3 separate regions of the Homo sapiens genome follow, and all the other regions are linked to region 2. The links come from fine-mapping of genetic effects on gene expression. A gene starts in region 2. Each other region holds a variant in brackets. All regions are shown on one strand. Distances are between the middles of the regions. Region 1 overlaps RBBP5 (RB binding protein 5, histone lysine methyltransferase complex subunit). Region 2 holds the start of DSTYK (dual serine/threonine and tyrosine protein kinase). Region 3 holds the start of LOC103021295 (a long non-coding RNA gene).

The links. PIP is the estimated chance that this variant, and not a neighbour inherited with it, causes the effect.
Region 1: its variant is the best candidate, but not a certain one, in a credible set for the expression of DSTYK in nasal epithelium (TOPMed, PIP 0.50).
Region 3: its variant is the best candidate, but not a certain one, in a credible set for the expression of DSTYK in skeletal muscle (FUSION, PIP 0.56).

What each region holds. Positions count from the first base shown.
Region 1 is chr1:205,104,085-205,109,084 of GRCh38, reverse strand. It overlaps RBBP5 (RB binding protein 5, histone lysine methyltransferase complex subunit), which reads left to right. Exons shown (of 14, transcript NM_005057.4): 4 at 3,917-4,057. Among named protein-coding and RNA genes, the nearest start is that of RBBP5, 15 kb to the left of the region's middle. RefSeq lists cis regulatory regions at 2,854, 4,195 and enhancers at 2,782-2,926, 4,123-4,267. The variant G/A (reference allele first, on the strand shown) is at 1,996.
Region 2 is chr1:205,208,518-205,213,857 of GRCh38, reverse strand. DSTYK (dual serine/threonine and tyrosine protein kinase) reads left to right here and starts at 2,156. Exons shown (of 13, transcript NM_015375.3): 1 at 2,156-2,587. The coding sequence starts at 2,323. RefSeq lists silencers at 2,227-2,356, 2,777-2,826.
Region 3 is chr1:205,955,409-205,960,748 of GRCh38, reverse strand. All of the region lies in intron 2 of SLC26A9-AS1 (SLC26A9 and RAB7B antisense RNA 1), which reads right to left. It overlaps LOC103021295 (a long non-coding RNA gene), which reads right to left and starts at 2,824. Exons shown (of 1, transcript NR_110982.2): 1 at 2,361-2,824. The variant T/AAAT (reference allele first, on the strand shown) is at 2,293.

The DNA of each region.
Region 1 (5,000 bases), 100 kb after region 2:
GCTTTAACTTAATCCCTCTATATTTATAACCTTAGCTTACCCCTGCCTTCCTCTGTTCCTAGAGTCCTGAGTCTGGCAGTATATTTATTTTGTCTCTGATATAAATAATTTTTTGAGCACTTATTATGTACCAGGCATTGAGCACTTATTATGTATCAGGCATTGAGTACTTATTATGTGCCAAGCCAAGAATTCTGTATGTATTAAATTCTTTCAACAGCCTTCTGCAGGTCGATACCGTTTTTATTCCTGTGTTATAGATGAGGAAATTGAAGCCCATAAAGCTTAAGTAACGTGCTAAGATCACACAGCTAGGAGGTAGTAATGTCTAGGCTTGAGTAGAAGTCTGACTTTTGAGCCATATTCTTAACCATGGAGATTATATTGCCTGCTGAGTTTCTCAATAGCACCTCCTCTTGATTTCAAAACCTGGGTAAAGTATCGGTTTTGGGTTACTTTTTTACTTGTTCCATTTGTTTTTTGTTTTTGTTTCCTGCCTTCCTGTGGGCTACTTGGACAAGTTTTTAGAATTCCATTTTGCTTTATCTGTAGTGTTTTTTGAGTGTATACCCTTGTGTAGCTTTAGTGGTTACTAGGTTTTACATCATACATTTATAACTTACCACAGTCTACTGGTGATAAGTTGTATTGGTGAACATTTTACCAGTTCAAGTGAAGTGTAGAAACCTTACCTTCCTGTTGTCCCCTTGTCCTTTCTTGTGTGTAATATAATTGTCTTAAATATTTGCTCTACATACATTGACACCCACATAAGACAGTGTTAAAATGTGTGTTTCAAACATCAAAACTCAAGAAGAGAAAAAGTAATTTTTTTTTTTTTTGAGACGGATTCATGCTCTGTCACCCAGGCTGGAGTGCAATGCTGCGATATCTGCTCACTGCAACCTCCGCCTCCCAAGTTCAAGTGATTCTCCAGCCTCAGCCTCCCGAGTAGCTGGGACTACAGGCGTGCACTACCACACCCAGCTAATTTTTGTATTTTTAGTAGAGACCGGGTTTCACCATGTTGACCAGGATGGTCTCGATCTCTTGACCTCATGATCCGCCCGCCTTGACCTCCTAAAGTGCTGGGATTACAGGCGTGAGCCACAGCGCCTGCCTTTTTTTTTTTTTTTTTGAGACAGATTTTTGCTCTTGTTACCCAGGCTGGAGTGCAATAGCGCGATCTCGGCTCACTGCAACCTCTGCCTCCTGGTTTCAAGCGATTCTTTAGCCTCAGGCTCCCAAGTAGCTGGGATTATAGGCATGTGCTACCATGCCTGGCTAATTTTTGTATTTTTAGTAGAGACGGGTTTTCAGCATGTTGGCCAGGCTGGTCTCCAACTGCCAACCTCAGGTGATCCACCTACCTTGGCCTCCCAAAGTACTGGGATTATAGGCGTGAGCCACCGCACCTGGCTTAGAAAAAGTAATTTTATCTACCCATATATTTATACTCTTTTCATTGTTCATTCTTCCTTCCTGATGTTCTAAACCCTTCCTTTAATCTTTTCCGAACATTATGTAGCCATTCTTTAGAGTATGTCTGCTAGCAACAAGTGTCTCAGTTTACCCGTTTATTCCTGGAATGACAGTTCTTTTCTTTCAGTGCTTGAAAAATGTGCCACTTCCTTCTGGCCTTCATGGTTTCTGATGAGAAATCCCTTTTCATTCATATTGTTGTTCCCCTATAGATAAGGCATCATTTTTCTCTTGCAGCTTTCAAGATTTTTTCATTGTCTTTAGTTTTCAGAAGTTTGTATTTCTCGGAGTGGATTTCTTTGGGCTCATCCTAGTTGATGTTCTTGAATCTGTAGGTTTTGTATCTCTTGCCAGATTTAGGAAATTTTCAGCCATTATTTCTTCAAATAACCTTAACATCCCAGTCTGTATTCTCTCCTTCCAGGATTCTGATGACATGAATATTACATCTTTTGTTATAGTTCTACAGGTCTCTGAGGCTCTGTGTGTATAGATACATATGTGTGTGTGTGT[G/A]TATATATATATATGTATACACACACACACACATACATATACACACATATATACACACAGACACATATATATATATGTCTATGGTAATTTTTATTCCATCTTCCAGTTTGCTAATTCTTTCCCTTTTTTTCCTCCATTGGCTGCTGAATTCATCTATTGAGTTTATTTCTGTTACTATATTTTTCAGTTCTAAAATTCCCATTTGGTTCTTCTCTGTATCTTCTGTTTCTTTGCTAAGATTTTCTGGGCTTTTTTCCCCATCTGTTTCAGGCATGTTCATAATTGTTGAAGCATTTTTATGATGGCTGCATTATAATCCTTGTCAGATAATTCTAACATTTATGTCATTTCTGTATTAGTGTCTATTGATTGTCTTTTCTTATTCGAGTTGAGATTTTCTTTGTTCTTGAGTTGACAAGTGATTTTCAGTTGAAACCTGGGCATTTTGGGTATTATGAGACTGTAGATCTTATTTATTTTTTACTTTTTCTTGAGACAGAGTCTCACTCTGTTGCCTAGGCTGGAGCCCAGTGGCGCCATCTTGGGTCACTGCAACTTCTGCCTCCCAGGTTCAAGCGATTCTCCTGCCTCAAGCCTCCCGAGTAGCTGGGACTACAGGTGCACACCACCATGCCCGGCTAATTTTTTGTATTTTTAGTAGACAACGGAGTTTCACCATGTCGGCCAGGCTGGTCTCAAACTCTGGGCCTCAAGTGATTTGCCTGCCTTGGCCTCCCAAAGTGCTGGGATTACAGGTGTGAGCCATTGCGCCCGTCCTATAGATGTTATTTAAATCTTTTAGTTTAGCAGGCCTCCTCTGATACTGCACAGGGAAATGGAGTGTACCATCTTGTTATTCCCAGAGGTGGGTGAAAGTCCAGGTTTCTTCTTACTTGGCCTCATTACTGCTGGGTGGGATTGGAAGTTTAGGCTCTCCACTAGGTCTCTGCTGATAACATCCTGTCTGGGAAGGATAGGAATTCCTTGTTCCTTCTCTCTATGTGTCCTTCTCTGACACCATGGTGGTGCGACCTCATTACTGCTGGTGGTAATGCAAATCTGATTCTCTACTGATCCTTCTCTGACACCACCCCAGTGAGGTGGGGAGGGTGCCTTGTTATAGCTGGATAAAGGTGAAGTCTAGGCTATCTGCTTCAACCTGGCTAAGAGGGGGATTTGCATTTCTTTTCTGTGATGTTTGGCTGGCGTAGGTTGGTTATTGTCTTAAAGTTTTCTGTCTTGCTGGGCTGTCCTTTTCTGGTCCCTTAGCTCTTCTTGGGGCTTTTTATGCGTGCCCACTGGCATTACCAGGTTGTTGGCTTCTCCTTCACCCAGAACGGGGAACATGAGGCAGAAAATTCAGGGATTTCACTACTGTGTCATCCTTAAGATTCTACAGTCTCTGGCTTGCCTGTCCTTTGTCTACCTTTCAGAACCTTTTTTGTCTGTTTTATATATTATGTCCAGTGTGTTTATCTGTACTTACCAGGAGGAATTAATTCTTTCTCAGTTCTTTTAAAATTATTTTAAATAACAGATACTTATCATTTTTTTGTTTTGTTTATACCATGATGGTGCTACTTCTGAGATGACTTCAGAAAGTTCAAATATATCAACTCTTAAAGCGCAGCTGATTTTTTAGACTCTTCTAAGATGTTTTAATCTCTTATTTCACTGAGTCACTTTATAGTTTTATCTTGAAATATTATGAGCTTCCATTACTAGATAGTAAAATGTCATGAAAACCTTCTTATTAATTGCCTAGTTGGAAAAGCTTATGGATTTGAGTATACGTGGAACAAAACCAAAAACATTGTTGACCTGTGCAGTTGCAGCAATGTGTGTGACTTACACAGTTTATTCATGAGAGTGGTATGATATACTTAGAATATGTGCTAAATTACCCCTTTTTTTTCCTCAGCTGGAGCCGAGATGGTCATAAACTCGTGAGTGCTTCCACTGATAACATAGTGTCACAGTGGGATGTTCTTTCAGGCGACTGTGACCAGAGGTTTCGATTCCCTTCACCCATCTTAAAAGTCCAATATCATCCACGAGATCAGTATGTTTAAGCTATTTCTCTCCTGGGGTGGGGTCTAATTCTATATGGATTAGCTCTGGGCTCATGATAATTTTAGTTTATGGTTTTAGAAGGCAAATACACATCTCTTCAAACCTTCTACATAAAATAATCTTTCCATCTAGGTTGGCTCTACTGAATACATTTCTTTCTTTCTTTCTTTCTTTTTTTTGAGACAGAGTCCTGCTCTGTCACCCAGGCTGGAGTGCAGTGGCGCCATCTTGGCTCACACAACCTCTGCCTCCTGGGTTCAAGATTCTCCTGCCTCAGCCTCTCGAGTAGCTGGGACTGCAGGTGCGTGCCACCATGCCTGGCTAATTTTTGTATTTTTAGCAGAGACAGAGTATCCCCATGTTGGCCAGGTTGGTCTCGAACTCCTGACCTCGTGATCTGTCCACCTCAGCCTCCCAAAGTGCTGGAATTACAGGCATGAGCCACTGCGCCTGGCCCTGAATGCGTTTTTTTTAATTTAAATTTTAATTTTTTTGAGATGGAGTCTCGCTGCGACGCTCTAGCTGGAGTGCAATGGCACAGTCTCAGCTTACTGCACCCTCCTCCTCCTGTTTTCAAGCGATTCTCTTGCCTCGGCCTCCCAAGTAGCTGGGATTACAGGTGCAGGCACCACATCCGGCTAAGTTTTTGTATTTTTAGTAGAGATGGGGTTTCACCATGTTGGCCAGGCTGGTCTCGAACTCCTGACCTCAAGTGATCTGCCCGCCTCAGCCTCCCCAAAGTGCTGGGATTACAGGCGTGAGCCACTGCACCTGGCCTCTTACTTTTTTTTAATGATCATGTTTTATTTTGTCAAGACTAATTTTACTCAGAATTTTCCCTGTTATTAGACCTGTGGATTTTATGCTTTTTCACTGTTTCAAATTTGCTTGGGTGGGAGAATTGATGAGGGTATGGACAGGGATCAGGGAAA
Region 2 (5,340 bases):
AGATTTTAAATAGCAAAAAATTATTGCCTTTCTCAACAGATCAAAAATAGGTATGAGATATACTTACACATATTCAAAATGATGTACATAGATTAGTTCTTGCAGTATTGTTTTTAATATCAAAAGACTGCAAAAAACCTAAAGGTCCGCCAATAGAAGACTTGTTAAATAAAACATGCCAATCCATGTGGTAGTATGTTACACAGTTAAAAAGAATGAAACAGACCTTTATGTTTTGGTACAGAAGTCTGCAAGGCCATAATCAAATATGTATTACGTATGCTATCATTTGTATTTAAAATACATGCATACACATATATAAATACATATATAGGATCTATTTATACATGATTTATATCTACAACAGTGGTTGCCTCCTGGGAGGGGAACTAGGTGACTGGGAGGTGAACAGAAAAACTAAGAAAGACTTAGTTTTTCCTTATATATCCTTTGCACCATTTGAATTTTATACCACATTCGTGTATTACTTATTTTGAAAATAAATGCAAAGTACTAAGGAATAGTTTTTAAAAGGGTGGGCTTTGTGATATTTACCTGAAATAATGCCCTCTCTGATTACTTCCACCTATCTAAATTTTGCCCCTTCTTCAAGATAGATTCCTTTTCTGGATAACTCCAGCTTGAGTGCTCTTATCTGATCTCCTGTGCTAGAAATTCGTGTGTGTGGCAAATCATTACACATTGCTTTCTTACAGCTCTTCTATTTTAAAAATAGTATCTACTTTGTATTAAAATTCCCATTTTTAATTTTCATTTCTATTTTACTGAACCTTTGGGGATTGCATGGGGAATATAATCTTGCAAAAGAAGAATGGCTGATGGAAAATACGTGACCAAGTAAAAGGCAGAAGGGGGAGTGGGTAAATGGGAAGGAGCATGAGGCTCCCTCCTTGCAGTCAGCCCTCACAGACATTTATCAAATACAGATTCATTTGAATTAGTGACCCCTTTTTATAAAATGCTAATGCCCCTGGAAAGGTAAGGCCTTCACATCTTACAACAATTAATCCAAATATCACGACATCATTTGGCTAAGAACACCTGGGTGTTCTGCGATGAGAGGTCAGGAGAAGTAAAATTTCTGAAGCAGGACTCACAAAAATTTAAAACCAAAAGGGCTTAAAGATCTGCCATTCTAAACCCTTACTTTATAGAAGATGAAACGGGGTCTTGCCCGAGATCACAATGCAAGGTATAGGAAGAGTCCAGATCCAAACTCAAATCTCCTCTTAATTTCAGTCAAGGAACTACATCATGTAGCCTATCAGAGAAGAAGTCTGGCCTAGGTAAAAGACGGTGTCTTTCTATAGCAAGAAAGATACAGATGGGCTCTGTGCCTGGTGAAGAGGGGAGAGATAATTCAGGAAGCACAAAAGAGGTGACGTCAAGTTTTGCCCCCTTTGTAATTGTGTCCAGGAGTCTGTGACTGTGTGTGTCAATGAAAGTCCTCCATATTAGCAGAAACCAAGTTAAGATAATCAGAAATAGTTTGGAAGGCTACAAACCTCAACTTCCCCTTACCCAGTCCGGTCTCCCTACTTCAGGAACCCACTGAAGTTCAGCTTACAGCTCTTGTTGATCCTTTCACACCCTTCCTTTCCAAGTCTGGAGAAGGAAAGTTGGAAAAGGGGAACGCAATGCAAATATAAGAGATTTCCCTATTTCCAGGGTACTTTCAGCCGATTTCCAGGGTACTTTTAGCCGATTCCCCAGTATCTACTGTATCCGAAACACTAGAGAGCCACTTAGGGTAGCCATGGAGATGACTGTCTTCAGTCTTGTTTCCTTCCTTTTCTCTACTATTAACATCTTTCGCTACGATTTCGGTAAGGCCCCCCCACTTCTGCTGGCACTCAGGTCCTGCAGCTCCTCCCTCTCCTCAGGGACGCTCATAGAGGGATTAGGAACACTTTTTAAAATGAAGAGAGCGCGAAAACACAAGAACGAGTGAGGGTTTTCTCCAAAAGGGATCAGTCCCATCCACAGCCTCCCCTTCTCCAGCCTTGAGGTTTTGGCGTTTGGTCCCAGCCCGGACTGCAAGTCCCAGGAGACCCCGCGGCGAGGGTGTCCTCCAGCGATCCTTCCCTCACGCTTCTGGATAGTGGAGAGAAAGGTTCCGATAGCGGCGCACTGCGGTTTGGTTTGTTTGCAACGGCAGTGACGGAGGTTGGGAGCCAGGCTGACTGCAGGCGGGGGCGTCAGGAGGCGGATTCCTCCTCCCTTCGGCACTGGGGGGCGGGGAGGAGGGAGGCCGGGCCTGCGGCCGGGGACCGAGCCGCAAAGACAGAGCGGGCAGAGGCGATGGAGGGCGACGGGGTGCCATGGGGCAGCGAGCCCGTCTCGGGTCCCGGCCCCGGCGGCGGCGGAATGATCCGCGAGCTGTGCCGGGGCTTCGGCCGCTACCGCCGCTACCTGGGACGGCTGCGACAGAACCTGCGCGAGACCCAGAAGTTCTTCCGCGACATCAAGTGCTCCCACAACCACACTTGTCTCTCCTCCCTCACGGGCGGCGGCGGGGCCGAGCGCGGCCCTGCAGGCGATGTCGCCGAAACCGGGCTGCAGGCGGGTAAGGAGGGCAGCCCGGAGGGAGAGAGGGCAGGAGAGGCAAATCGGAGGACGGACCGCACCCCTGCCCTGCAAAACAAGCCCGAGTCTTCTCGGGCAGGCGGAAAGGGGCAGTCGTGTCGTGTGGCCGGGTCCCCGGGCATGGGCCGGCCGGATCTGGGATACCTTGGGAGGGCATCCTTCTGAGGAGGGGAGGAAGGGGCCCGCTGGGGGACCGGGAGCCAGGGGCAACCGAGGGCCGGAGTTCCCGGAGCGGGACCCCGGGGACCGGGGTGTGCGCTGACGGACCTGGGGCGGGCCGGCGTTCGGAGAGGGTAGCAGTTAATCCGAGGAGTGGGGAAAGTTGCTCTGAGTTGGGGGCGGGCGCGTGCGCCGTTGTGGGTCAGAGCCCCAGTTTAGAGATGGAGCAGAGGCGGCAGCGAGTCCCGGGAGTCCGAGGAGGCCATGGGACTGTAGTCGGGTGTGTGGGTTTGATGATGTATGTGAAATGTGTTCACACCAATCATGAGGCAGCTCTGTGAAGAGGGGACATTCTCTAAATAGGGTTGGGGGTCGCCAGAGGAAATCATATCTGATGGGTGCCACGGAATTGCCAGAGATGTTGCTCATGCTTAAGGTGAAGAAGAGAGGGAAGGGATCATTTTGGTCCTGAGCCAATGGAGAACTAGCTACTCTTGTTCTTTCTTGCATGATTCTTTCTAGGATGTGCCAGAGGCCCCCAAACACTTAAAATCGTGCAGTCTTTAATCTTTCCTAACGTCTTGCTTCCTTTTAAACTGCTGTTGGTGGGGAACTGGAGGATTTGTTAACTACTGCGTCTAATTAGGAAATAACTTTAGATTGGAAGGGAGAAGGGACTGACATTCCACGTAGATAGATATCTTGGGGACAAAACAGCAAAGAAGTCTGTGGGTTTAATTTAGTGATTCTCAAACTAAAGTGTGTATTAAACTCACCCCAGGGGCGTATTAAAAATGCCATGTCTCGTGCTCTAGCTCATAAATTCCTATTGAATAGGTGTGTGAAGTGGGTCCTAAGAATCTAATTTAACATGAAAAGACCCTGAAGAGGCCGGGCGCGGTGGCTCACGTCTGTAATCCCAGCACTTTGGGAGGCAGAGGCGGGGCGGATCACTTGAGGTCAGGAATTCGGGACCAGCCTGGCCAACATGGTGAAACCCCGTCTCTACCAAAAATATAAGAAACTAGCCAGGTGTGGTGGTTGAGGCCTGTAATCTCAGCCACTGGGGAGGCTGAGGCAGGAGAATCGCTTGAAACCAGGCGGCGGAGGTTGCAGTGAGCAGAGATTGTGCCACTGCACTCCACCCTGTGCGACGGAGCAAGACTCTGTCTCAATAATAATAATAATAATAATAATAGTAATAATAAAAGACACTGGGGAAGGTGATGCAGGTGGTCCGTTAAAATACTTTCAGAACCATGAATTTAGATGCTCATAGCAAATTTGAACACAAGGCTTAGAACTGGATGAATTGTTCTGACTTTGCGTGTTAGGTCTTATATTCCCAAAGTTTTGCGCTTAATATCCTACATCCGACTGGGAATCCAGAAATGGTGATAAAAATAAGATACTAAGATCATGACAGTATCAGAAAAACTAGTAGTTTCAGAAAAACTAGTCATCCCCCTCCTTTTATGTTACAAGGTAAAATAAGGCTTTTTAAATTCCTATCCAAACCAACTAAATGGAACGGTATCATTTAGGACCCTGTCATGATCTTAGTATCTTATTTTTATCACCATTTCTGGGGATGACTAGTTTTTCTGAAACTAGTCTTTGACATCTTACGTCCAGAAATATACTGTCCTGGAATGGACTTGTAGAGAGAACCAGTATCTGTGAGGCTACCAGAAAACAGCTGATGGGAAGGGCTAATGTTTTCTGAGACGATCCCCAGAATGTGTACTTTCACCCGCACCCATAACAGTGCTTTCCAGAGGTGTCTCCTGCTCGGAAGTTTCTCTCACAGCTTATCTTAAAAAGCCCTTTATTGCTGTTTTTATTTTAAAACAACTATTTATTTTAGACTTGCTTCTAAAACAAAGAGAATTGATTAACCTCAGAGAGATGGAGGTTTTCAAGGCACTTTGGTTGGCTGTTGTTTTTATTCTTTAAAAAACAACTTAAGACATACAAATATACCTTTGCATTTCACTTCATTGGCTTTTCCAGTTGACTGCATCATGAACTGATCTTTGCGTATTTAACTCTCTTCACCATCGGGAGTCTGTCCATCCCAGATAAAAACCTGGGAGGGTGCAGATGGCAGGAGTGGGAGCAATTTGGTTTTGTTCCATAAAATGCTTTTCTTCCTTTCAGCGTGGAGAGTTTGGGGGTAAAAATGCACCAAGGAAAGTTAGTGAAGGGACACTTAATATGTATATTTGAGGGATGCATTTTCCTAGCTGTTTAGGTGGTCATGTCAGAAAGTAGAAATCACTCCTAAAAAGACAACTAGCTCTTGTTCTCCCCATTTACAGGCCATCTTTGTAAGGTCAAGTTATTCAGAGACTGTCTCAACTTTCTTTTTTAAATTTTTTGTAAAGATGGGGTCTCACTTTGTTGCCCAGGCTGGTCTCAAACTCATGGCCTCAAACGATCCTTCCAACTCAACCTCCCAAAGTGCTGGAATTACAGTAATCAGCCACCACACCCAGTCCTCAACTTTCTTTTATGAATGTTAGTCTCTGATTAATAGGAACTTGGGTGTTGAAGGAACACTCAATTCTTACC
Region 3 (5,340 bases), 750 kb before region 2:
TCTAACATACCCAAATCATAAGCACCTTTCAAAGCCCAGCTCAACCCCAGCCCTCAAGAGCCCCTGCAGACTGCAGTGCTCAATGAGTACTCCCCACATCAGGGTCACCCATCAGTGTTCCCTCCCCAACTAGACCCCACACTGCCCAAAAGCAAAATCACATTCCAAAAAAGTCAAAAGACGCACAACACAAACTGTCCTCACATCTGTCCCTTGCTGGGGACTGGGAAGGAGCAGCATCAGGTAGTGTCACAGTCCCCAACACAGAAATCCAGGGTCAGGGGTGTTCCAGCTGGTGGCCTGCCAGTCTCCGTGTTCCCAGTTCTGACTGGCAGGGGCTATGGTGCGAGAGAGCTGGCCACTGGCAGAGCCTATTTTCTCACAACCAAATGATAGCCCAAGGACTTGGGGCACTTTGCAGAACATTTTACTTTTCAGAGCACTTCGAATGTGAGAGGCTGGAAGGGGCCTTCGGAACCATCTTGTCCAACACTCCTGGCTCCATGTTACAGATGAGGAAACAGCACAGATGCACCCATAGTCTCCTGGGCTGAGGGGCAGAGCTAAAGTCCAGGTTTCTAGAACCCTGATCTTACTTTGAACCGCCTGGGGTTGGGGGGAGGTAGAACAAACAGCTATGGAATTGACAGAGCCTCCAACGTTCACACTTAATTTAGTCTTCCTCCCTAACCTGTGACATAGGTATTACTGAGTGCATTCTAATTTTCCTGTTGCAGGAGGAGGCTCAGAGTGGTTATGGCACCTGCCTAAGGTCACACAGCAGGTACGTCTGGAGTTCTGCCTCTGGGAGCCAAGCATGCCAAGCTTTATTAGAGACCTGAGCTCTTAGTGTTTCACTGGGCTTGAGGAAAGGGCCTCTTTGCCTCCTAAGTGGGAGTGGGAGTGTAGCCACGGTGGGAGGTAGGAGGGAGCCTCACTTTATAAATTCTTATTCTCATTGCATCCTGAGAGGACTTCCCTCAAGGTTACACAGCTAGTGTAAGTTACTGGCAACTTTTGGGGCTCAGCAACATGGAGCTCTTCTGCTTTTGGGTGGTTGCCCCTCTCTGCAGCTCTCTACCTGTATATAAGAGCCCCATGGTGGGGACACCTGTGGTGACCCAGAACTTATTCACTCACTCACTCATTCAACAAATACCTGTTGAGCACCAACCATGTGCTAGGCAGTGTGCTAGACACTGAGGATGCTAAAGTGAATGGGACAGTCAGACAGAGCCAGAGGGGCTGGGGCACCTAGGGAGGGAACTGGGGTCCACCTTGGCCCCCACCTCTTGGCCACTAACCTATACTATATTCTAGTCGGGGAGACAGATGGTTAAACAGAGAGGAGTTGATCACTCATTGTGCTGGGTGCTATGACAGCGCTGTGCAAGGGGTCAAGGAGCCCAGGGGAAGGTACCTGTTCCAGGCTGGGGGACGACAGAAAGAGAAAGTTTGCTAAGTTCAGAAGGCTGTGCAGAAGTCAGCCTGGCAAAAGAGAAGAAAGGGCATTCCAGGAAGCAGGGCAGACAGTATGGTCAAAGGTGTGGGGAAACAAACAGCTTGGCACATTAAGCTGTTTGTACACACTTAAGAGAAAGATCTGAAAGGGTGTACACCCAACTGCTAAGGCGGATTATCTGAGGAAAATGAGATTATTTAGACGTGCTTTTTTATTTGCACACTACTATCTTGTTTGAATTTTTATAGTGGGCAAAAAATTACTTTCATAAGCAGAAAAATATATAACTAATAAAGAGCATTCTCTGTATGATGGAACTTTGAGAAGCGTGATGTTTGGGAACAGAAAATTGGAGGCGGTACTGCTGGGAGTGGAGGAGAAAAGCCAGAGAGCTGTCACAAGTCTCTGGACCCAGGGAAGCAGCAGGTTGACACCAGCCTCCAGGCAGTGGCCTGGGGTGTTCATTAATTGGGCGATTCCTTTCCTGGGAAGCTGCAGGGCAGACCCAGGGGGCTGGGGGGAGATGTCAGTCAGTTCAAACTGATGTCTTCTAGCTAAAGCTCCAGGGAGTAAGCAGATCTTTGGGGTTCTGGTTGCCCGCCGCCCGATCCCAAGCTAAAACTCTCATCTTCCTTTGGGCAGGAGTCATGCTAGAGTGAGGCTGAGAGGTGGTTCCCACCAGCAGCATCAGGGGTTTCTAACTGGGCTGTCTTTCTTGACCTCTGACTTTTTTCACCATCTCACTCTCCAGCCTGGACCTGGGCTGGACTGCTAAAGGACAAAATGCCTGAAGCTCTTTGAACAAGGTCATTTGCAAAAAAAAAAAAAAA[T/AAAT]CTTGACCTTTCAAATGAGTTTTTACAGACTTCCATCATTTTTCTTTTTTTTTTTTTTTTTTTTTTTTTTATTGAAAAAAAATTATATTTTGGAAGAACTCACTACATAAGGTGACAGAATTCCAAAATCAAATTACATGAAAATATACATCGCAATTTCTTTGTACAATAGGTGAGAAAAATCTGCAGTATAGAAGAATAGAGGCAGAGAAATATGAAGGACTAAGGAGAAGGGTATGAGAGTAAATAGGATTTGTAATAGCAAACCCAGAAGTTAAGTAGAAAGCCTGTAGCTGTGCATGCTTCATTTATCCAACCTTAATACCAGGCAACTGAAGAGGGAAAAGTCAGATTTGCTATTGTTTGGGGAAATTTTCAGTAAGTTGAATTAAGAACCATCTATTTTTAGTTCTCAGGGGTAATGACTGGGATCAAGAGCTCACAACGGCCAATAAATGTTATTGCTATATCCAATCCAAGAGGTGGGTGCAACTAGAATACAAAAAGGACAAAGCACCTAGTGATGACTCCTTCGGACTTCCATCATTTTTCTCTAGAAAATCCTCTATTTGTCCTTTGCCAGAGGAGGCAGAAATAACTAGCAAACTGTAACTCAGGTGTGTCATTCAAACACACACACATTTAGTTTCTTCTCCATTCAGTGTGTCCCATAGGAAATGGCTGCAATTTGAGGAGTGACAACACTATCCCCAATTCAGAATAACCTCTTCTTCACTGGTGCTTGGAATTTTGTTTTGGGGTTATCATCTTCATCCTAAAGCTTGTTTGTTCAGTCTCCCGCTTTTCTTTTTTTTTTTTTTTTTTCTTTTTTCCTACAGTGGATGCCGTGGAATGGTTAGGAGGGGTGATTTCCCAACCATTTAATGCAGGTTCGTTGGTGCATATTTTCATGCGTGGAAGTCACAGGCCGAGATGGTATTATCAGTTCCACTGCTTAATATGAGCTCAGTAAGGAAATACAGTGCCTGCGGACAAGCTAGGGGTTCTGGCTGATGTACATAACCAATACTTTCTTCTCACCTTGGGGACTGTGGAGAGTCTCCCCAAAAAAAGATTGGAAGAATCCAGTTGTTCAGAGGAAGAGGGGCTTGACTTGGGGCTGAGACCGAGACGCACATGGAGCCAGGCCCCAGTGTGACCATTTTGCTATTGGCTAGAAAAATGTAGAGCTGCACTCTCTGCCAGCTCAGGGCTGCCTTCTAGAGCCTCAAGAGGTTAGGAGCAGCTCTGGGAGACAGGGATGAGTCTTCTACAGTGACACTGCTGATAAAGATGATGGGCCTCATGGACGAGGTAGAAACAGTAGGCAGACAGAGGGACGTTTCAGAGAGTATCTGATTTTAAAAGTGATGATGTGGAAAATCATCAATTACCAATCAAAGTCATGTCATGTGTGCCAGAAAACACAGAACACATATTTGGGAGGCAAGTGGGGAAAGAAGGCAGGGTTGGGGGTAAGGCAGGGCTCCGCTGACCTAGCTGTGTGCTTGAAGCGGCTGAGGAGCTTTTACACAATGCTCACAACCAGGTCCCACCGAGGCACAGTCAACCTGAATTTCTTGGGATAAGGCCTAAGAATCTGTATTTTTAAAAACTCCTCCAGAAGGTTCTGAAATACAGCCAAGTCAGATAAACCTAACTGTGGTTAAGATGAAGATGGGGGCTGGAGGAACAACCACAGGGTTAGGGCAGGAGGGAGAAGGGAGCCTAGGTCTGGAAGGGAAGGACTGGAGGGAACAGGCTGGCAGCAGGTAGCTCTGTGCCCATTTCTGGTGGCCTCCTGACGCCAAGAGAGCCAGTGAAGAAAGAACCAGAACCCCTTCACTCTGAGTTGCTTCAGAAGCAAGCTTCCTGTGGCTCAGTCAGCCTCCCCAGGGGCAGAGGCCATTTGGGGAGGAGGAACACCCCCTCTTCCAACCAAAGCCCTGATAAAAGGAACAACTAGGGTTTCCCTTCGGGACCAGCAGGATGGACTAAGAGCAATTTTCTGGGTCCCTCAGGCCACATATACCATTTGTCATTTCCCATCAGTGCCTAAAATGCCTTTGCCAAAAGCTGTGCCTCTCCCGCTAAGCCATGCCATGGTGGGTCAGGGAACTCCAAGTGAAGGGAAAACTGTGACACAGAACCTAGGGCCTCGGTTTTACTCGAAGGTGGGGAGGGGAGAACTGCTTTCGTATCACAGATAAACTTGGGCATAGTGGGGAGTGGATGCCTCATCCACATGCACTTTGTTTAATTAAAGACAGGATCAGTTGGGCACAGTGGCTCACTTTGAGAGGCCGAGGGGAGCAGATCTCTTGAGCCCAGGAGTTCGAGATCAGCCCAGACAATTTAGTGAGACCCTGTATAAAGAAAGAGAAGAAAGAAGGAAAGAAAGAAAGGAAGGAAGAAAGGAAGGAAGAAAGGAAGGAAGGAAAGAAAAGGAAGGGAGAAAGAAAGAGAAAGAGAGAAAGAAAGGCAGTCTTGCTAGGTTGCCCAGGCTGGTCTCAAACTCCCAGCATCAAGTGATCCTCTCACCTCTGCCTCCTGTGTATCTGGGATTACAGGCATGAGCCACTGTACCCAGCTTACATGCACTTTTGAGGTAATATATAATTCTTCAATGACACATCTCCTGAAACTGTTCCAACCTCTCCTCTCCCTTTTCCTAATTTTTGTTATTTTGGGTCTTCTGGTTGCTGCCTTTGGGACTTTCAATATCTTTAAATAAATCTATCTATCTATCTATCTATCTATCTATCTATCTATCTATCTATTTTCCTTCCCTCCTTTCCTTCCTTCCTTTCTTCCTTCCTTCCTTTCTTCCTTCCTTCCTTTCTTCCTTCCTTGCTTCTTTTCTTCCTTCCTTCCTTTCCTTATTTCTTATTATTAATGCATCAGCTCTAGATAAAGCCTATCACCCCGCCTCTGGGAGGGATGTGGGAATCTATATCCTCTGCCCCTCCTCCAGGTTTCTGTGAGCCACAGCATTACTTTTATATCATCACAGTTTTAAGTCTTCTGCACTTTGTCTATGGGTTGTGT